4 separate regions of the Homo sapiens genome follow, and all the other regions are reported to be linked to region 4. The links are microRNA targets in miRTarBase. Many come from high-throughput screens and were not tested one by one. Region 4 holds a microRNA gene; each other region holds the end of a gene's coding sequence.

Evidence for each region. Region 4 holds the annotated microRNA hsa-miR-6744-3p (GGGCCUCUCUUGUCAUCCUGCAG, at 2,917-2,939, opposite strand). A microRNA usually pairs through its seed, bases 2 to 8, with sites in the 3' UTR of a target mRNA and lowers its output. Matches are read on the target gene's strand: a 7mer-m8 pairs with bases 2 to 8, a 7mer-A1 pairs with bases 2 to 7 and ends in A, and an 8mer does both.
Region 1: the mRNA of C15orf40 is a reported target of hsa-miR-6744-3p. Seed matches in the 3' UTR shown: 7mer-A1 at 2,950-2,956.
Region 2: the mRNA of TMEM67 is a reported target of hsa-miR-6744-3p. Seed matches in the 3' UTR shown: 7mer-A1 at 3,498-3,504.
Region 3: the mRNA of NIPAL1 is a reported target of hsa-miR-6744-3p. Seed matches in the 3' UTR shown: 7mer-A1 at 710-716, 8mer at 1,059-1,066 and 7mer-A1 at 1,104-1,110.

What each region holds. Positions count from the first base shown.
Region 1 is chr15:83,002,242-83,006,333 of GRCh38, reverse strand. It overlaps C15orf40 (chromosome 15 open reading frame 40), which reads left to right. Exons shown (of 4, transcript NM_144597.3): 4 at 642-4,092. The coding sequence ends at 737. Among named protein-coding and RNA genes, the nearest start is that of C15orf40, 7.4 kb to the left of the region's middle.
Region 2 is chr8:93,816,103-93,820,194 of GRCh38, reverse strand. TMEM67 (transmembrane protein 67) reads right to left here. Exons shown (of 28, transcript NM_153704.6): 28 at 2,074-3,823. The coding sequence ends at 3,743. Among named protein-coding and RNA genes, the nearest start is that of TMEM67, 63 kb to the right of the region's middle.
Region 3 is chr4:48,035,585-48,039,676 of GRCh38, forward strand. NIPAL1 (NIPA like domain containing 1) reads left to right here. Exons shown (of 6, transcript NM_207330.3): 6 at 1-4,092. The coding sequence ends at 588. Among named protein-coding and RNA genes, the nearest start is that of NIPAL1, 21 kb to the left of the region's middle. RefSeq lists enhancers at 1,089-1,348, 1,369-1,428.
Region 4 is chr11:1,255,391-1,259,586 of GRCh38, reverse strand. It overlaps MIR6744 (microRNA 6744), which reads right to left and starts at 2,982; the gene lies at 2,917-2,982. MUC5B (mucin 5B, oligomeric mucus/gel-forming) reads right to left here. Exons shown (of 49, transcript NM_002458.3): 37 at 4,029-4,196; 38 at 3,362-3,431; 39 at 2,816-2,916; 40 at 2,316-2,347; 41 at 1,877-2,057; 42 at 1,384-1,488; 43 at 1,220-1,257; 44 at 526-645.

The DNA.
Region 1 (4,092 bases), not on the chromosome of region 4:
TATATAAAATTGCAATATTTATTTTGGTATTTTAAAGATGATTTTCATTTTTAACTTAATTGCTTGAGACTAGAATATCATTTTTTAGATTTTTTTTTTTTTTGAGATGGAGTCTTGCTCTGTTGCCCAGGCTGGAGTGCAGTGGCGCGATCTCAGCTCACTGCAGCCTCTGCCTCCTGGGTTCCAGCGATTTTCCTGCCTCAGTCTCCTGAGTAGCTGGGATTACAGGCACATGCCACCATGCCCGGCTAATTTTTTGTATTTTTAGTACAGACGGGGTTTCACCATGTTGGTCAGGCTGGTCTTGAACTCCTGACCTCGTGATCTACCCACCTTGGCCTCCTAAAGTGCTGGGATTACAGGCGTGAGCCACCGCGCCTGGCCCATTTTTGAGATTTTAATGTCCAGCTTTTATTATAGAAATTGATGTATGAAGGTAAAAACCCTGGAGAGTTGTTAGTACTAACAAATGTTTAGTAACAAATGGTAGTAAGGAAGAATCTAAGAGATAGTCTTTGGTTAGACCAGAAGTAACCAAGAGAAAGCCATCAGGAGAGCCCATTATACAACGGAGGTCTGCTATCTCTAATAGCATTAGAATGTGCTAAACAGTAAAGTATGCTTTTTCTCTTTTGGTCCAGGGTGGTAAATCTCGTGAAAAGGTGGTGAAGCTTTTGGCTTCTACAACTCCAGAAGAGATCTTGGAGAAATTAAAAAAGGAAGCCAAAAAAACATAAAAGCAAGAAATGAGGCCGGGCGCAGTGGCTCATGCCTGTAATCCCAGCACTTTGGGAGGCCGTGGTGGGCGGATCACCTGAGGTCAGGAGTTCGAGACCAGCCTGACCAACATGGTGAAACCCCATCTCTACGAAAAATACAAAATTAGCCAGATGTGATGGCGCATGCCTGTAATCCCAGTTACTCAGGAGGCTGAGGCAGGAGAATCACTTGAACCTGGGGGGCGGAGGTTGCAGTAAGCCGAGATCGCGCCGTTGCACTCCAGCCTGGGCAACAAGAGTGAAACTCTCTCCCCCCGAAAAAAAAGAAATAAAAAATACATCCTTGAGAAACTTTTTTATTGCTAATGGTGAAGAGGCTGTTAAATAGAAAAATATACTACATGCACAGAAGAACATGGGGGACATATATATATGTATATATTCGAATAAGACTCCAAAAAGTAGAAATTTAAAAAGTGCTATACATTGCATCAGGTTCTAAAATCCCAAACCCCAAACAGCCTGGAACATGTTACTCTGATTTCATGGCGTTGTAAAATAACAGAGCTGGGAAGAATATTCAAGATGACCTGATTTAACACCTTTCATTCTGTTGGGGGGCCTTTGATTTCCTATATCCAGAAGTTGAGAGACTTACTCAAGATTGTACCATGCAAGCTGGCAACTAGAACCCAAATCCTTGGACTACTTGTTGAATGCAGTTTTTCTAGATTGTAAATTAAAAATCATATCTCCACAACGGTTCTGGAATTCTGGGGATTGCCTTCTAATCCAGTTTACAAGTGACAGAAAACCTGTTATGCTGCTTTGTAGTCTTACCTTAGATTTTTAAATGCTTATTTAAATGTAAAAAAAATTTTTTTTTTACATCTTTTAAAGACTATATTTACCATTTTGTTGAAAAAGTAAAGAAAAATCATGACTTGTAATTAAATGTGAATTATAATTTTTGAGAAGTCACTGAATTTTCATCTTCCTCTAATAACTTAAATAATCAGCAAATTCAGTAGTTTTTATGAATCTCCAAAGATCCTTAAAAGAAGAAAGAGGACTTGGAAGCTATTTTCAGTATTTGTAAAAGCTTGTCAGAAATTACATCTATATTAAAGTTTCAAAAGCTAATAATATATTTTTACATCTTCAGGTCAAGTTATAGTAATTTATTAAAGAAAATAAAATTAATTTCCTTTGCTGATCAGGAGAGCTGATCTGCAGTTGTGCGCTTTGTCCAGCAAGTACATGAGAAAGATGTATTGATGGACCAAATCATTAAAAACAAAATCCACAAGGAAGAACAATAATAAAAATTGCTGATGGTAGCTGGGCTTGGTGGCTCACGCCTGTAATCCCAGCGCTTTGGAAGGTTGAGGCAGGAGGAACACTTGAGCCCAGGAGTTTGAGACCAGCCTGGGCAACGAAGTGAGACCCTGTATCTGTCTCTGTCTCTTTCTTTATAGATAGATAGATATACATAGATAGATTTTATACATAGATATATATATTTATATGTAAGATTATATATAAGACCTCATATATAAGAAGTCCAGGCCGGGTGTGGTGGCTCATGCCTGTAATCCCAGCACTTTGGGAGGTCGAGGCGGGTGGATCACCTGAGGTTAGGAGTTTGAGACCAGCCCGGCCAACATAGTAAAACCCCATCTCTACTAAAAATATAAAAACTAGCCAGGCATGGTGGTGGGTGCCTGTAATCTCAGCTACTCGGGAGGCTGAGGCAGGAGAATTGCTTGAACCCAGGAGACGGAAGTTGCAGTGAGCCCACACGGTGCCACTGCACTCCAGCCTCGGCGACAAGAGTGAGACTCCGTCTCAAAAAGAAAGAAAAAATCCCAGACAGTGAAAGAGAAGCTACTCGTCTAGTACAACTCTTAACTTGTACCAAATAGGTATCAAGGGCAAGAAAAGGTGGCTTATGTGAGATCACAGTGCACATTAATGGCAGAGCTTGGTTTAAGCCCAGCTGCTTTGTCTTCTAAACTGTGCCATATACTGCCTGCAAATGTGCTTCTGTTTTACATGGTCTTAAGAGCTTTTCCCACTCTTTCTCAAGACCATTGCCATGTGTGCTGTAAAGCCGTTTTACTTGTGGATTTTACATGGATCACTGTTAGAATGTCATAAAATGATATCATAAAAGATCAACTTTCCTGGCCGGGCATGGTAGCTCACACCTGTAATCCCAGCACTTTGGGAGGCCAAGGCAGGTGGATCACCTGAGGTCGGGAATTCGAGACCAGCCTGACCAACATGGAGAAACCCCATCTCTACTAAAAATACAAAAAATTAGCTGGGCGTGGTGGCACATGCCTGTAATTGCAGCTACTCGGGAGGCTGAGGTAGGAGAATCGCTTGAACCCGGGAGTTGGAGGTTGCGGTGAGCTGAGATCGTGCCATTGCACTCTAGCCTGGGCAAAAGGAGCGAAACTCCATCTCAAAAAAAAAAAAAAAAAAAAAGGATCAACTTTTGGTCAGGCGTGTTGGCTTACGCCTGTAATTCCAGCGCTTTGGGAGGCCGAGGCAGGCAGATCACGAGGTCAGGAGTTCAAGATCACCCTGGCCAACATGGTGAAACCCCGTCTCTACTAAAAATACAAAAGTTACCTGGGCATAGTGGCAGATGCTTGTAATCCCAGCTACTCGGGAGGCTGAGGCAGGAGAATTGCTTGTGAACCGGGACCCTGGAGGCAGAGGTTGCAGTGAGCCAAGATCGCACAACTGCGAACTGCGCTCCAGCGTGGGCTGCAGAGGCAGACTCCGTCTCAAGAAAAAAAAAAATCAGCTTTCTTTCCTTCCCCTGAATCTTCTGCAGTGCCAGTTTCATCCTCAGGCCCACTTGTTTCATGTAGACAAAAGGCCAACCAGGTTTCATATTCACGTATCAACCCCTGCAGTAGGAGAAAAGGCCACTCCTAGGAGCTCTGGTATTTTCCAGAAGCTTTCAGTCAGCCTTCCCTTGTATCAGCCCAAATCAAGTCACATGAAATTTCTAAGCCAGCCCCTGTGATCAGGGAATGCCATTCTATAACACAAGTTCCCTAAAGCAGTAACTATAGAAGAAAGAATTACCCTAATTGTTTCAGGCCAATTAAGGCCCATCCTAGAGGTGGAAATGGGGTCAGCATACTCAGAAGCAAAGAAGTAGAGAGAGTTGGATACCTGAATAAAATTGGGAAAAGTTACAAAGAGAGGAATGGATGCTGGAGAGGAACCACCAGTTTCTACTACGATAACCTATTTACTTCATTTTAAACGGTGATATTTTAAACGTGGGAACATTTTGCCTAGTGAGTTTTTTTCTTTGAGAAACGTAGCAGTATCTTGTAACAAAGAAGAT
Region 2 (4,092 bases), not on the chromosome of region 4:
AGCCATGGGGGAAAGCACCAGTCAGGAGGCAGGAGCACCAGGAGCCAGGGCAGAGCCTGGGTGCTTACTGGAGTTTCTGAGGAAATGGCAAGGCAGGGTGGGGTCAACAGTTTGGGATCGGCTCGTTGGAATAATTTCAGTGTGCTCTAAACTACAGAGACTATCCCTAGTTGCCCGTTACCTGGTCCTGGGATGATTTAAGGAAGAGGAACATTGCCTCCTAGGGTTTCAGGGCCAGACAGAGGAGGTGTGGCTCAGGTCTATAGTTTGTATATCAAAGGTATGCTCCCACCTGAGTTCTTTGCTGTCTAAAAGAACTGGGGAGCCCCAGGAGGGACAATCACTCCCCAGAAGGGAAGGTTTCTTAAAATGACAAAACATCTTATACAGACAACTTTTAAAATATAAACAGTACATGTACTCTGATTCAAACTGCCCGTAGTGCCCCAAACTGCCATGTGCTGCTTTGTCTCTGAGCACATACTGTTCCATGCTTTGGTTGCACTTGTTTTTTTTTGTTTATCTTAAAATCTTAGATCAAATCCACTTCTCTGAGGTCAAAGCCCTGATGACCCAGAAGTACAGTTAAGAGCTTTCCTTATATCACACCCCGGTACTGCAGCACGTTTCATATTGCTGTAATTACTGGTTAATTTACCTCTTTCTCTTACAAATTATAAGACCCTTCTGAGGGGCTGGGGAGTGGGAAGAGGTAGAAACATTGTTGGAATGAATGAGCAAATGAAAAAAACCCTCCCTCCCAGAGACAATACTCCACTCTTCCTGTTCTCTCCACCCTCTATCACAAACTGTGTCTCCCACAGGGGTGTTGTCTTCTTTTATGTTTTACATCTATCGGTGACCTCTATCTGGGCCTCTTCCTGGCAGAGCTGGGGGTGGCTGAGGAAGAAGGCAGGCTCAGAATTTTCATTGGTCAGTTATTGAGATCAGTAATCTGAGTTTTAATATCATATTATTAATTTATTAGCAAGAAAAAAATATATTTTGGGGCAGATATTTTAAACTAAAAATAAAAATTCCAGCATTCATAGTTTACTCAATGTTAAAAGCACATTCTAAGAAACTAATCCTGGCCATGTGTAGTGGCTGACACCTGTAATCCCAGCACTTTTGGAGGCCGAGGTGGGTGAATCTCTCGATCAGGAGTTCAAGACTAGCCTGGGCAACATGGTGAACCCTTGTCTCTACAAAAAAAATACAAAAAATTAGCTGGGCATGGTGGTGCACACCTGTTGTTCCAGCTACTTGGGAGGCTGAGGTGGAGGACTGCTTGAGCCTAGGAGGCAGAGGTTAGAGTGGGCCAAAATCGTGCCACTGCATTCCAACCTGGGTGATAAGAGTGAGACCCCATCTCTCTCTCTCTGTCTCACACACACACACCCACGAAACTAATCCTTACAACAAGTGGTAAGCAAAGGATATTATTTTCATTGCAGAGATGTAGAATGAAGCTCAATGATGGCAAATGACTTAGTTCAAGATACCAAAGCTTATGAGTGATGGGCAAAATTCTAATTTGAATCCAGGGCTTCTTTTGCTAAATTTGGAGCACTTTCCATTAAGCCACACTCCTCACTGCTCCTTGACTTACAGTTATTTCCCCTCAGCTTATATTTGTCAATATTTACAAAAAAAACACATGCTTCATGCTTGTAAGTGCTGAGTTAATGATCATTTTGAATGTTCCTCAATGTAGGTCATCAGCAAAGCCTTCTGAAAAGGCAGTTAGGACAGCAATGCCAGAGAAGGAAGCATTTACAAATCTCCCATAACAGAGGCACTGGTCTACAGAAGTATTTTAGGGGCCTGTATGTTTCTAAGGAGCATCCAAAGTACACAACAGCTTATAAAGAACCTCTCTAGGTTTTGTTTCATTATGAAATGAAGAGAAATCAAATGTTTCTAGAAAATCAGTAAAATCAGGGATATAAGAGTCAAAGTATAGTGATTGGGTACTACAGAAATAGACAAAGGGTAATGAATCTAGTGAATAATTATGCACATGATCAGGAAATGTAAATTGTGACAATGTGAACAAAGGAGTCGACAGTGTATGAAAATCTGAACACATTTTTATGCACCTAGCCAAAATAAAAATATCATACAAAATTTAGAATGATTTTAAATGTTTTCTGTTTTAATTTATCAGCAAGTAAGCCAATTGATCCTTTATTGTGAAATTTAATACTTAAAAACTTTTGCACTAAAATTAACTTCTTCTATGTTGAATGATGGTTGAATTTCTTTCATATGCTTCTGAGTGAGTGGTTTTAAATATCCATGCCATATAAGTACATGTATTTATCTCTGCAGCTTTTATAAAGGCATTCCTGTACTGTGATCCTTCAGAAACTGCAGTTTCAAAGACTTCCTTTTCAGTCATCCTCAAGATTCAGGGAAATGTAAAAGATTCAACTTTGGCAATGGCTGGGACCTCTGCCCCAATAATGTTATATTCCTAAATGGTACTCCATCAGATATACATTAATGAAACAGAAAACAGAAATACCAAATGTTTTAGTATATATTTTCATCTGAGAAAATATAAATAATATTTATACAGTATTCCATTTTAAGTATTTACACAGCATTAACATAGAAAGCAGTGAGAAACATGATACATTTACAGTGTTTTGTTTTTGTTTTTTCTGAGACAGGGTCTTGCTCTGTCATCCTGGCTGGAGTGCAGTGGTGCTATCTGGCTCACTACAGCCTCCACCTCCTGGTTTCAAGCTATTCTCATGCCTCAGCCTCCCAAATAGCTGGGATTACAGGCCACCACATCCAACTAATTTTTGTATTTTTTGTAGAGATGGGGTTTTCCATGTTGGCCAGGCTGTTCTTGAACTCCTGACCTAAAGTGATCCACGTGCCTTGGCCTTCCAAAGTGCTGGGATTACAGGCGTAAGCCACAGCGCCCAGCCTTACTGTTTGTTATTTACAGTCTTTAAACGTAATTGAAAAGCAAAACTCTGGAAGAGAACTCTTAAAACATTAAGTAATTAAAATGTATAAAAAATGATATTGGGAAAAATGTCATACGTTATAACTTAATAAATGTAAACTATATTAGAAATGCAAATATATTTCATGGAAAGCGTATACTGACCTAATACAGGTATACAAAGGAATGAAAAGATATCATTTCATGAGATGCATATTAACCCAACAGTGAATTAATCCACTGCCAAAGAGGATGAGCAATTAGAATGATGCAAATTGAATCAGCAATAATACAATTTAAAATTTCTAAGTAAACTTGAAAATATCTTTCAACATTTATTTAACCATAAGCACACAAAACATGAAAATATCAAACTGAAAACTAGTCTTAAACTTGGAATCAAATTACTTTGTCAATGTGAGAAGATTCAGGCAGCTCTCAGTTTATAAAATAATCTACAGAGACAAATGATGGGGACTGTTTTAATTAGCATTAAAAAGTATTATGCTGAAAGCAACATTTAGATTTTTTTTGGCCTCACTGTCAGTATTAATTTATTATTTACTGCATTAAATACTACACACAATGGGAAAACAGTATTTTCTATTATATCAGGTTATATATTCCCAAGTTATAAAAATAAATCTTTCTGCAAATAAAAAACAAAAACAGAATAGTCTGCATTATAAGTTTTAAAAAATATGGCAAACTAACCTGATATCATGACTTTTTTTTGGCCATGATTATACTGAGTCTTTAAGTTATTTATTCAGGAAGTTAAATCAAAAATCTTTGATCCACCAATGTTTTGGATGCCAAATTCTTTTGTCCTACTGTATTACGGATATATCTAAAAATCTGGAAAATTAAAACAATTCAGAATGAAAAGAAATATAAACAGAATTAAATATGCACGTCGATTAAAATATCTAGATTAAATTAGCTAATTCTCTCAACTATTTTCATGTATCAGGTATCTGAATCCCATAGTGATACATAAAATTATTTCAAGATGATAATTTCTTTCATAGTTTCATAGTATGTTCCCATTTAGAGTAAATTCTTATGAATTAATAATACAAATTCTCTCATGTTCACAGAAATACACTTTAAAATATATAGAAAGG
Region 3 (4,092 bases), not on the chromosome of region 4:
ATAACTGTGATCTCCTTGGTGCTGATTTTGATTGTGGCTCCCAAGAAAGGACAGACCAATATATTGGTTTATATTTCAATCTGTTCCTTGATTGGAGCGTTTTCAGTTTCTTCTGTGAAAGGCCTGGGAATTGCCATTAAGGAGCTGATAGAATGGAAGCCAGTTTACAAACATCCGCTGGTCTTTGTTTTGCTGGCTGTACTTGTGCTTTCAGTAACTACACAGATTAACTATCTCAACAAGGCACTGGACACCTTTAATACCTCTCTTGTGACACCCATTTATTATGTATTCTTCACATCCATGGTAGTGACTTGCTCTGCCATCTTATTCCAAGAGTGGTATGGCATGACAGCTGGAGATATCATTGGGACCCTGAGTGGATTCTTCACTATTATCATTGGCATCTTCCTTCTACATGCTTTTAAAAATACTGACATTACTTGGAGTGAGCTTACATCCACTGCTAAGAAAGAAGCCGTCTCTCTGAATGTCAATGAAAACAATTATGTTTTACTAGAGAACTTGGAGTGTTCAGCCCCAGGATACAATGATGACGTTACCTTGTTTAGTAGAACTGATGACTGAAGTCTCTAGAAACACTGAGTTTTAACCAATATGAGACACACGAAGAGGAAAATGAATGCTTGCTTCTTGGAAGAACTGCTAGGAAAGTTAGCATTTTTGCAGTTCTAACTAATTTAGATGTGAGGCCAAGTAAAAATGCCATTTTTTTGGCCATTGAATTTGAAAATCAAATTGATTATCCTCCAGAATCTCTACAAACTTTGAAATACTCTCTAAGGATCAAAGAAGTCAAAGAGCTATGTGTGTCTCAGAATAATCTCCTTCTTCTGGTCACAGTATCTTTGTCTCTGCCAGGTGGCTCTTCATTTCTTTGGTAGCTATTTTTAGACTTACAGTCATTCACCAATATACAGTTAGCAGTGTTCTGATAGACACAGTATCAGTCATATTCTCCGTTGAGTCATAATTTCAAACTCAACAAGATTTCAGAAAGGTATAATCATGTAATTTCTCATATTAAAACTGAGAAGAGAGGCCAGGCATGGTGGTTCACACCTGTAATCCTAGCAGTTTGGGAGGCCAAGGCGGACAGATCACTTGAGCTCAGGAGTTCGAGACCACCTTGGGCCACAAGGCGAGACCCTGTCTCTACAAAAAATACAAAAATTAGCCAGGCGTGGTGGCACATGCCTGTAGTTCCAGCCACCCGGGAGCCTGAGGTGGGAGGATTGCTTGAGTCTGCGAGGTTGGGGCTGCCGTGAGCCCAGATTGCGCCATTGTGCTCCAGCCTGGGTGACAAAGCAAGGCCCTGTCTCAAAAAAGAAGAAGAGAAAGGGCCAGGGGCTTTTGCTTTAAAAAACTTTTTTTAAAACAGAAGTGAAACCACGGGTGCTTTGTTCTTCCTTCTGCACCTCCTTCTTAAACTAGATAGCTAATTAGTTATTTTAAGAAAAAAGAAATTTAAAAAAAAGCCTGCTTTATTTGTTAGTGGGCTAGAATACACAAGACATACCCACCCATGAAGAGTTTATGAATTGTAACTTATTGACATTATCATAGGAATTTACTACCAGTTAAAGAGGGAGAACGGAGGAAGAGAAAAATACTTCAGATAAAGGAAAAAGTTTTCTTCTCACAAAAACACAGACACGTGATTGTTTTCACAGGTTCCATTAATTAACTCAGGTCTGGAAGACATAGGACAAAATGGAGTTTCTGAAGAAGTCCAGGTGAATTCAGCTTTGGAGTCACTTATGTTCATTTTTTTTCCTTTTCTTTTACTATTATCCTAAAGGTTATTTTTCTTGTTGATATAGAGATTTTTGTAAAAGATTGCTACATTATTTCAGGATTATATCCTACATTTCGATTGCTCTCAAATGTTTTATCCCTAAAGAGTGAGTTTTCCACAGACTGTTTGGAAGCAACTAGAAAAATCTTTGTGAAAAATCTGAACAAATTATCATAATGGCTCTCTTGAAATTTTGCACTTTCACCCTTATTAAGGAAATTATAATTAGTTACTAACCTTTAAAAATAGATATATTCTAATAGGATAGAAAGTTAACTTCCTGGCAAACAAAATACTAAGATCTCAGGGGCTACTGCAGGAAAATACCTTTTTCGCACATTAAAATGTTTATAAAATTTTCCCCTCTCATTTCAAATGCATGGCAGGAATAACATTTTTGGTGGTCTTTAATGTGATGGACAGATTTACTGTCACTTATTGATTTTATGGAAAATAAATTGGCTATCTTATTTTTATAACAATCTTATTTTTCTCAAAACAAAAATCCTAACCAAAAAGTTGTCATTAAAAAAAAAAAAATTCAGGTAGACTGAATGTTTTTCTGCTCTAACCTTAAATGTTATTAGGTTTGGTTTTTGTTTCTAAGCTACTTCAAGACTACCTGAGGTAATAATGGTAAACTTTATTATTCAGAATTCGATTAAACTAACTTCAGCATTTCCACAGTTCTATTAAACAATGACTGATGTTCACAATGACAACCTACCTGAGATGGCTGCAAGGCCCTAATGTTCCATTATACATTATAGTCTTTTCAGCATAGTTTAGTGTTGAGTGCAATTCTAATGCATTCTACGTTTTTGAAAATCGATAATCCATGGAAGGTCCATGGGTTGATACCTCAGGTCAAAAATGTGTTTACTCTGTTGATTGCTGTTTCACTTTACTTGTATATCAGATATATAAGCTATGAACACAAGTTTGTAGTAAAAGTATCTTCTGTCTGGGCAATGGCTCACACCTGTAATTCCAACACTTTGGGGGGCTCAGGTGGGAGGATTTCTAGTCCCCAGGAGTTTGAGACCAGCCTGGGCAATAAACTAGACCCCATGTCTCTAAAAAATGTAAAAAACATCAAGAGGCTGAGTCAGGAGGATCATTTGAGCTTAGGAGTTCAAGGCTGCAGTAAGTTATGATTGTGCCACTGCATTCCAGCCTGGGTGACAAGAGTGAGACCCTGACCCAAAAAAGTATCTTCTGATAAAGTGGCATTTGAAAATTGCAGAAATTTTAATATTTTTTCTTTTAATATTAAGAACTTTATTGATCTCTCTAGGACACCTTGGTGAGGAAATTAATGGCACTTTTCTTGACATCCAACCTGGGACTCTGGTGATTCTGTGTTCTGGCGAATTTAAGTTTCAGACATTTCTTTGTGTCACCTTTTACAAGGTGTTTGCCCTTGGTACGTTATGACCAGGTCAAAGGTTCCCAAACACAAGGCTCATTGTGTACCCTGGACAGGAAATTGAACTGATGTTGACATGTATGCATGCCCAGGAGGAAGACTGGGAAAGATTTAATGAGTTGAAGTATGCTGAGAAACAATGAAATATTTGAAAACTGTCTACATAAAAGTTACTGATGCACATGCATTAAAAAAAAAAATGTTGTTGCAAATCTAACACTAAAAAATTTTTGACTGGGTGCAGTGGCTCACACCTGTAATCCCAGCACTTTGGGAGGCTGAGGCGGGTAGATCACAAGGACAGGAGTTCAAGACCAGCCTGGCCAACATGGTGAAACCCCGTCTCTACTAAAAATACAAAAATTAGCCAGGCATGGTTGCGGGTGCCTATAATCCCAACTACCCCGGAGGCTGAGGCAGGGAATTGCTTGAAGCAAGGAGGGGCAGGTTGCAGTGAGCCAAGATTGTGCCACCACACTCCAGCCTGGGTAACAGCAAGACTCCGTCTCAAAAAAAAAAAAAATTCCCAAATAGGAAGATATTTTCTAAGGAAGAATAAAATGCTGGACCCCTATATTCAGACTATTAGTCTTAACTGGTAGTTTATGTATATATTTTAATACTTTGTCATCATGTACATATCTTAAGATTTATTATGTGAATATCTGCATGTGTGTTATTAAGGATTACAAAGTTGTGCTCACACAGGACAAATGGAAAGATTTTCCTACTTCTGTAAAGATAAGTTTCATTATACTTTTGTCTTACAATTTTATTCTTAGGTCAATGGTTATTTATTATAAGTTCAGATTGCACAATTTTCATAAGACCCTTTGGATTTAGC
Region 4 (4,196 bases):
CCCCAGTTTCCAGCACCTTCTCTCTGCCTACCCCTGCCTTCCTGGAACCTGACCTCAGCCCCTGTCCCCAGCAGCCTGCAGGTCCTGTCCCACCCCCAGACCCCCTCAGTTATCCTCCTACTTCATACCCTCCCTTTGGAAACAAACAAGACCCCAGCAATGGCTGAGCTAGAGAACCCCAGGGAGCCAGGATAAGTGACTCAGGGCTGGGTCTGCCCAGCAGCTGTGGGCTCACCTGGGGGCAGGTGCCTCGGGTCTCACTTGGGGGCAGGTGCCTTGGTGGCTCACCTGGGGGCAGGTGACTCAGGTCTCACCTGGGGGCAGGTGCCTCGGGTCTCACCTGGGGGCAGGTGCCTCGGGTCTCACTTGGGGGCAAGTGCCTCAGGGACTCACCTGGGGGCAGGTGCCTCGGGGGCTCACCTGGGGGCGGGTGACTCAGGTCTCACCTGGGGGCAGGTGCCTCGGGTCTCACTTGGGGGCAGGTGCCTCGGGGGCTCACCTGGGGGCAGGTGCCTCGGGTCTCACCTGGGGACAGGTAGTATTGTTGCAGGCATCCTCCTGACATTGCACCGTTGGGTCCTGGGTGTCCCCAGAGAGGCAGGTACACATGTGGCAGGGAAGGGCGCCTGGGAAGGTTGCACCAACCTGCAAGGGGTGGGAGGGTGGCACTGAGGGCACTGGTGGGGCAACAGGGCCAGGACCCCTCCCCATGACCCAATGGGGCCTGCAGGGAGTTGTTCCTTCCTCAGATGGAGCATAGATGCACCCCTGGCTGAGCATGGACCCAGGCAGGCAGGGAGCTGATGCACACAGGGACCACAGGTGGGCAGGGAATCTGGGCAGGCAGAGACCCCATGTGGGCAGGAATCTGGGTGGGCAGAGACCCCATGGGGGCAGGAATCTGGCAGGCAGGAATCCGGGCGGGTAGGAATCTGGGCGGGCAGGCGGGGACCCCAGGCCAGTGTGTGCTGCCCCCAGGCTGTTGCTGGGAGCCCCTGAAGGGACCTCTCAGAGGCAGCAGTTGTGGAGCTCATGGCTGTCGACGTAAGGTGCCCCTGAGTCCCAAGCATGTCCCAGCTCTGACGTGTCCAGGGCCCCTGTGCGGATCGGCCCTCAGGGCAGGAATGTCAAGACAAGGAGTGGGGCTCAGAGAGCCCCGGGGCATCCCACACACATGTTCAGGCCCCAGGGCCACACCCACCCACTGCTGTGCCCTTACCCCGTAGAAGGTGCCATTGTACGAACACAGCTGAGGTCCTGGAAGGAAAGGGAGCTAAGCCCTCGACAAGTGGTGGGGAGCATGTGCTCCAGCGCCCCCACCATCCTGCACTCCCCCACCCCCAGCAAGAGGCCACCCAGGAGCCCGGCCCCAGCCCCGCTCACTGCAGCGGAAGGTGGGACAGCAGTCGCCCTCCTCCTGGGTGCAGATGGACTCCTGCCCTGGCGGGCACACAGGCAGGCTCTGGGGGCAGGTGGTTGTGTTGCACACTGCGGGAGGATGGAGGCCACTGTCTGGGCGCTGCTCACTCCTCCTCCCGACCACTTGTTCCCAGAGTAAGTCGCAGGCGTGCTTTTCCCCGAGGACCTGACCGCTTCACAGCCCCTGGGGGCTCCCTCCAGGCCCCTTGCTTGGCCACCTCCCCGCTGCTTCCCACGTCCCTGGGCCACTCCTGGGCAGGCCAGAGGTCACCAGCCTCATCGTTAGGAGGAGAATGAAGCACCTGGAGGCCATCTCTGCCGAGTGGTCCTGCCGCGGTCACGCCAGGACACAGTGGCTCTCCTCTGCTCTCCTGTGCCCAACCCACAGGCCCCTGGTGGGCACCGGCTCTGTCCCCCCTCACCCTATGCCGGGCACCTCTGCTCTGCAGCGTCTTACCGCACACCGTCTCGGGGCAGCAGGGGTTCTCGGCCCGGGGCCTGGTCACGGTTACGAAGCCGGGACGGTTGCACGGCGGGGGCTGACCCTGGGCGTCACAGGGCAGGGGCTTGCACTGCACCGACACTGAACCCTCGTCACACACGCAGGACTGGCAGTTGCTGACCCACCGCTCCCCGGGCTGGAATGGATCAAGGGGGTCCCTGAGGGCTCCTGGACAGACACAGGTCAACCCTGGGCATCTGTCCAGCCACCCCCTCCCTCGGGCTGGTACCCGAGTGGCCCAGAGTGATGGGGCAGGAAGCGCACACCAGCCACTGGCACGTCCACGTCACACTCGGGCGCCCCACAGCTGCCCTGTGGGATGGGGATGCTCCTTCCCTCCCTCCCTCAGCTCGCGAGAGGGTGGGGTAGGGCAGGTGGGGGTGGAGCCACTCACAAATTTAGGAAACCCATCGGGTCCCACGCAGGCTGGAAAGAAAACAGCATGGCATCACGGAGGGTGCTGAGTTTGCAGGCGGAGGGGCCTCTGGCCATGGGAGGTGCTCTCAGGCCTGGAGCCTGCTTCCCCCCGGGATGGAAGGCCCTGGAGAACTTTTGGGGTGTCAGATGTGGCTGGAGCTCAGGCCAGGGCACCGTGAGCCCAGCTGTCAGTGCATGGAAGCCTCGTCCATGGTGGTGGGAGGCAGGGCTCAGGGGAGGGACCATCACAGGATCACTCAAGGACAGAGCCTCCCTGTGGGGCTTCAGGGGACCGTGGGGGCTCTGCAGGGTTCAGGGCCACTCTGGGGCCATCCCATGCTCTGGTGGGGCAGAACAGGTCACGGGGGTCAGCTGGGGAGAGGGGAGAGCACATCATGGTCCTGGGCGGCTCCTCCCACCCTGTGTGTGCTTGGGTCGGGCCCAGGGTCGTATCCCGCCACAGGTGGCGGAGCTTACGGCAGGCCTGCACGCAGATGCCCATGTGTGCGTTGAAGAGGATCTGGTCCTCAGGGCAGAAGCAGCCCTCCGCCATCCCCTCCAGCTGTGGGCTCTGGTTCCTGCAGGATGACAAGAGAGGCCCTGAGACCTAGAGATCCAGGAGGCCTCCACTGTCATCCACGTGAGTCCCCAGGATGGGCAGTGGGGAGCAGGGAAGGAGATGAATGGGTGGAGTGCGGGGCTCAGGGTGGGCGGGGCTGGGGGCGGGGACGGGTGGGGCTGGGGTGGGGGTGGGCGGGGCTAAGTATGGGCGGGGATGGGTGGGGCTCGGTGGCGGGGCCAGGTGGGGATGCGGGGCCAGGCGTGGCCAGGGATGCGCCCCCTGCCTGACTCTGTCTCTAAGGCATCTGGGAGCAGCAGGGGATGTTTTCCAAGGAGTCCTGGGCTCGGGCACCCCAGAGATCTGTGGCCCACAGTGGGACACCCTCTGGCCTCCTCCTGCTCCCCCAGACCGGTCAGGCAGGCCTGGGTGGCAGGGAAGGCACCAGCCATCCCTGTACTTACCTAGAGTTGCAGGTGGCAGGCTGTATGGGGCCGCATGGCTTGTACACTTTGGTGGGTGGGCAGGTGAGGTCTGTGGGCACAGAGAGGTGTCAGACAAGCCAAGGGGTTGGGGGGGCCCAGGGCCGCCCCCAATCACCGCACAGGACACTCAGAGAGGCCGAGGAGTCTGGGGGGCCCGGGGCCGCCCCCACTCACCGCACAGGACACTCAGAGAGGCCGAGGGGTCTGGGGGGCCCGGGGCCGCCCCCACTCACCGCACAGGACACTCAGAGAGGCCGAGGGGTCTGGGGGGCCCGGGGCCGCCCCCACTCACCGCACAGGACACTCAGAGAGGCCGAGGGGTCTGGGGGGCCCGGGGCCGCCCCCACTCACCGCACAGGACACTCAGAGAGGCCGAGGGGTCTGGGGGGCCCGGGGCCGCCCCCACTCACCGCACAGGACACTCAGAGAGGCCGAGGGGTCTGGGGGGCCCGGGGCCGCCCCCACTCACCGCACAGGACACTCAGAGAGGCCGAGGGGTCTGGGGGGCCCGGGGCCGCCCCCACTCACCGCACAGGACACTCAGAGAGGCCGAGGGGTCTGGGGGGCCCGGGGCCGCCCCCACTCACCGCACAGGACACTCAGAGAGGCCGAGGGGTCTGGGGGGCCCGGGGCCGCCCCCACTCACCGCACAGGCCACCGGTTGCACCTCGCCAGTCACTGCACACTCCCCGGGCGCGGCAGAGCTCTGCGTAAGCCTCCAGGCTCTGGCAGGGCACCTCAAGGCGGCCCCTGCAGTGGTCGCTGATGCAGGCGTTGAAGAATGGGCCCGGGGGCACAAGGTTGTGGCACTCAG